2 separate regions of the Homo sapiens genome follow, and region 2 is linked to region 1. Evidence: fine-mapped expression QTL. Tissue or cell type: whole blood. Region 1 holds a variant in brackets; the other region holds the start of a gene. All regions are shown on one strand. Distances are from middle to middle.

Region 1 (2,682 bases):
CTCAAACTCCTTGGCTCAAGGGCCCTCCCACTTCAGACACCTAAAGTGCTAGGATGACAGGCGTGAGCCACTGCACTTGGCCACTTGAGGCTCTTGACACGCCTATAACACACTGCTTTGCACCTAATCAGAAAATATGTGTATAGAGGCCAGGCACGGTGGCTCACGCCTGTAACCCCAGCACTTTGGGAGGCTGAGGTGGGTGGATCACGAGGTCAGGAGTTTCCGACCAACCTGGCCAACATGGTGAAACCCCGTCTCTACTAAAAATACAAAAAAATTAGCTGGGCATGGTGGCGGGTGCCTGTGGTCCCAGCTACTCGGGAGGCTGAGGCAGTAGAATGGCGTGAACCTGGGGGGCTGAGATCACGCCAGTGCACTCCAGCCTGGGCAAGAGAGTGAGATTCGGTCTCAAAAAAAAAAAATTAACTGCGTGGTGGTGTGCGCCTGTAATCCAAGCTACTCAGGAGCTTGAGGCAGGAGAATCGCTTGAGCCCGAGAGGCAGAGGTGGCAGTGAGCCCAGATCACGCCACTGCACTCCAGCCTGGGTGACAGAGCAAAAGAGAGAGAGAGAGAGGAGGGAGAGAGGGAGGGAGGGAGGGAGGAAGGAAGAAAGGAAAGGAAGGAAGGAAAGAGGAAGGGGAAGGGGAAGGGAAGAAAAAAAATATATATATATATAAAAGATATGGATCAGAGGCTCTATATATATGCACACACACATATATATCATATACATATAATGTATAATGTGCGTATATATGTGTGTACGTACACACACACACACACACAATAGTCCCCCATATCTGCAGGGGATATGTTCCAAGAGCTCCAGCGGATACCTGAAACCACAGATCATACCAAACTCTGTATATTCAGATGCTTCTCCACTTATGATGGGGTCGAACTCCTATAAACCCGTTGTAAGTCAAAATATCCTAAGTTCAAAAGGCATTTAATGCTGGCAACACAGTAGACTGTCCCTGACTCACAATGGTTCAACTTACAATTTTTTTTTTTTTTTTTTTTTTGAGACAGGGTCTTGCTCTGTCACCCAGGCTGGAGTGCAGTAGCACAATCATTGTTCACTGCAGCCCTGATCTGGGCTCAAGTGATCCTCCCACCTCAGTCTCTCGGATAGCTGAGACCGCAGGCATGCGCCACCATACCTGGCTAATGTTTTAGTTCTATAGAGACAGGGTCTCACTATGTTGCCCAAGCTGATCTCAAACTCCTGGCCTCAAGTGATCCTCTCACCTCCACCTCCCAAAATGTTGGGATTACAGGCGTAAGCCACCACGCCCAGTCCCAATTTACTTTTGACTTTGTGATGGTGCAAAAGCAATGAGTATTCAGTAGAAACCGTAATCCCATCATAAAGGGTAAGGAGTTCACTGATGATGGAGTTAGGTCCCTAGAAACCTGTCGTAAAGTTGGAAACTTAGAAGTCAAACCACTATAAGTAGAGGACTGTCTGTACTATGCTTTTTCCTATACATACATATCTGTAATAAAGTTTAATTTATAAATCAGGCATAGTAAGAAGTTCG[C/G]AACAATAATAATAAAATAGAACAGTTATAACAACATACTGTAATGAAAGTTATGTGAATGTGGTCTTTCTCATTGAAAATATTTTATGTAAGTTTTTTGAACTGCAGTTGACCACAGATAGCTAAAACTTTGGAAAGCAAAGCTTCAGTTAAGGGGGGATTACTTTACATCACACATAAATAATGAAATATTTCACAGCATGAAGAATTAAACATTGGGGGAGGGCCAGGGCTGAAAAACTATCTGTAGGTACCGCGCTCACTACCTGAGTGACGGGAATCACTCATACCCTAACCTCAACATCACACAATAGACACGGAACAAGCCTGTATATGTATCCCCGGATCTAAAATAAAAGTTGAAATTATATTTTTAAAATTTGCATTAAAGGCCAGGTGCAGTAGTTCACGCCTATAATCCCAGCACTGTGGGAGGCCGAGGCGGGTGGATCACTTGAGGTCAGGAGTTCAAGACAGCCTGGCCAACCTGGCGAAACCTCATCTCTACTAAAAATACAAAACTTAGCTGGGAATGGTGGTGTGCGCCTGTAATCCCAGCTACTCAGGAGGCTGAGGCAGAAGAATCACTTGAACCTGGGAGGCAGAGGTTGCAGTGAGCCAAGATCGCACCACTGCACTCCAGCCTGGACCACAGATCGAGACTCCGTCTCAAAAAAAAAAAATTGCATTAAAAAAGAATTAAACATAATGTGTAAAATATATTTGTAACTTGTGTGAGATAATTAACACCCATGTAAACACAACCAATATCAAACATACGTCATTACCCATCACATCACTGACACTCAGGTGTGCCCTCTCCAATCCTGCCTTCTTTCTGGATTCCTTCCTAGGAACTACTATCCTATATTTCATCTTCAACATATCCTTTTAAAAACAGTTTTACGACTTAGGAACTCAGAATTGTTTTAGAAACTTGTTTAGTCGGGTGTTTTCCATTTTTCAAGACTGTAGCTTTTCTTTTCTTTTTCTTTTTTTTTTTGAGATGGAGTCTTGCTCTGTCTCCCAGGCTGGAGCTCAGAAACAGACCCGGTCCAGGATAAATAATTTTTTTTTTTCTTGAGACAGAGTCTCACTCTGTCGCTCAGGCTGGAGTGCAGTGGCGCGATCTCA
Region 2 (2,682 bases), 240 kb after region 1:
CTGAGACACGATAAAGGCCAGTCTTTAAAAACTGAGTGATCTCTAAACACTCTGCACTAGTCATACCACCACCGTCCCGTTCAAGAGTCTGTGCCTCTAAGGCTGTTCATTCTGTCTAGTTCATGATCCCTTTCTCAGATGGATCAACTCTGCTTATCCTTGAAGACTTCAAAGAAATTAGTGAGAGACAGTCACCATCACCAGAGTCAGCACAGGTCAACTTTTCTCTACAGGCTTGGGGTTTCTGAAGTTGGACTTGATGTGGAGAAGCTGGATAGCAACCAAAATGATTGAAGGGCTGTGGCGCTGGCACTGGTAAGAATGAAAAGAATTAGGGTTACTGGACTTGGTGAAAAAGACATGAGGAGAAGGGACAGGCAAATAATAATCAAACACCATGAATCAGAGGGTAGGGAAGGTAGCCACCGTTCCTTTGCTTTTACTAGAGACTAAGAAATGGATTATACATAGCAAGAAGCTTCAGAAAAGATTTCTTACTACATAAAGGTTCCAAGACATTGGAGTTGACCAAGGGAGTCTGTGAACCCTATTATTTTAATTACTCAGCTCATGGAGTTGTTTTGAGGATTACGTATATAAAAATCTGCGTAAATGACGTAGTATACAGTGCCTGGTTCACACCGTGGCTCAAATGATGGTTATTATTATTCTCTTACTAAGCATGCTTTAAAGGCTGTCGGAAAACTTTGGGGCCACCTAGGAAATCGTAGTATAATCAAATAATGCTGAAATTCTTGTGTGTGTGTGTGTGTGTGTGTGTGTGTGTGTGTGAGGTAGGGGCTCACTCTGTCGCCCAGGCTGGAGCACAGCAGGGCGATTACGGTTCACCTCAGCCTCGACCTCCCGGGCTCAGCCTCCCAAGTAGCTGGGACCAGAGGCGCACGCCACCACCCTCGGCTAATTTTTCTATTTTTTTGTAGCGACACTGCCTCGCAATGTTGCCCAAGCTGGGATGCTGAAATTCTTCCCCTTCCAAGAATCCATCTATAATTATAGCCTCCACGTCATTCTCCCTATTGGAATGTTTAATTGACTAAAACTACATTGCCTTCATCTGCTTACTAAGCGGTGGATCCAGTAAAGACCACATCTTGTCCAAAAGACGGCAGCACTTAATTAGCGCTCAAATGGCACTCGAACGTTTGGGCGAGGGGGTGTTCAGTCGCAGCCACCTTACTTTGCGAAGGCACACAGGGACAGACGTTCGCTAAGTGCCGATACTTAGGGAGAACGAGAGGGCCTGACCAGGTAAAGACGGCCTCCGCTGCCCAAGCTACACAAAAAGGTTGGGGAGCCAGGACCCGGCAAGCAAGGAGAGAAAAGTTTCATGCGTTGAGCTGGAGTCTGAAGCAAGGACCTAACGGACACAGGGAAACGTCACAGGAAAGGGAGCCCAGGAGAGCAGACGCGGAGCCACCAGACCAGAAAAAGGAAAAAGCACTGGAAAACAGCATCGAAGTCACCGGAAAGCAGCATCGAAGCCACCGGCGCCAGCCTCATACCTGCGCTTCCCGCTCCCCTCCTCGGCGCCTAGTGATAACCTCACCCGCCGGCGCCCAATCCCGTCGAGCGTCAGGCGTGAGGCGGCGCAGCCAAACAGTCACATCCGGGGCCGAGAGGAACCGCGAACGAGCTGGGCGTGCGCCCTTGCTTCGTGCCCTCAACCCGCATGGCGGAGCCGCTGGCGCGCCGCGGAGAGGCCGGGCGAGTCGGGCGGTTTCGGCGCCCGCGCTGAGCCGCGGAGGAGGGGCGGAGGACGCCCCTGCAGCCGGTGCGTCTGCCCTCAGTGAGGCGGGGCGCGCGGCGGACGCCCCCGGGCAGGGGCGGGAGTGGTGGAGGCGCCGGCGGTTGGCACTGACAGGGGCGGTGAGCGAGCCGCTCCGGTCTCCGGGCGAGGCTTGGCCTTCCGAGCAGAGACGGCGGGAAGCGGCGGCGGCAGCGGCGGCCCTAGGGCCGGCTGGTGAGGCGATGGCGGCGCCGGCCCCGGGGGCTGGGGCAGCCTCGGGCGGCGCTGGCTGTAGCGGCGGCGGCGCGGGCGCGGGCGCGGGCTCGGGCTCTGGGGCCGCGGGGGCCGGGGGCCGGCTGCCCAGCCGGGTGCTGGAGTTGGTGTTCTCTTACCTGGAGCTGTCCGAGCTGCGGAGCTGCGCCCTGGTGTGCAAGCACTGGTACCGCTGCCTGCACGGCGATGAGAACAGCGAGGTGTGGCGGAGCCTGTGCGCCCGCAGCCTGGCAGAAGAGGCTCTGCGCACGGACATCCTGTGCAACCTGCCCAGCTACAAGGCCAAGGTGAGAGAGCCCCGGGCCACACCGCTGCCCCCAGTCCCGCTCCCCGGCGTCGTTCGCGGTGTTTCTCATCCGAGCTTCTGAGTCAGAAGCTTCGCCTCACCAGCCCGCCTTTCCACGGCTCCAGTCAGTATCTTCCTCACCTCCCCCCAAGATAAAGATTCTCTTTTCTTTGGATCGAAGTTCTGCTCCTTAACCCATCCCACTTCCGTGATCCACTTTTCAAACAACTAGGTAGTTTGCCTCACTCATTCAACTTTTGACAGTTTTCCCCGTTAAAGACAGACCACCACTCTTGTACCTTTTAATGCCCTCATCCTACTTTTCTCCCCGGCCTCCAGATAGACTTCATTATATTAAATAATCCCGGCCACCTTA

What was found. PIP is the estimated chance that this variant, and not a neighbour inherited with it, causes the effect.
Region 2: it holds the start of FBXO45, and the variant in region 1 is fine-mapped to the expression of FBXO45 in whole blood (TOPMed, PIP 0.91).

Annotation. Positions count from the first base shown.
Region 1 is chr3:196,331,842-196,334,523 of GRCh38, forward strand. All of the region lies in intron 1 of TM4SF19 (transmembrane 4 L six family member 19), which reads right to left. All of the region lies in intron 1 of TM4SF19-DYNLT2B (TM4SF19-DYNLT2B readthrough (NMD candidate)), which reads right to left. Among named protein-coding and RNA genes, the nearest start is that of TM4SF19, 5.2 kb to the right of the region's middle. The variant C/G (reference allele first, on the strand shown) is at 1,549.
Region 2 is chr3:196,566,996-196,569,677 of GRCh38, forward strand. It overlaps FBXO45 (F-box protein 45), which reads left to right and starts at 1,665. Exons shown (of 3, transcript NM_001105573.2): 1 at 1,665-2,307. The coding sequence starts at 1,990. It overlaps WDR53 (WD repeat domain 53), which reads right to left and starts at 1,559. Exons shown (of 4, transcript NM_182627.3): 1 at 1,524-1,559; 2 at 1-312. RefSeq lists an enhancer at 1-900 and silencers at 1,622-2,161, 2,283-2,577.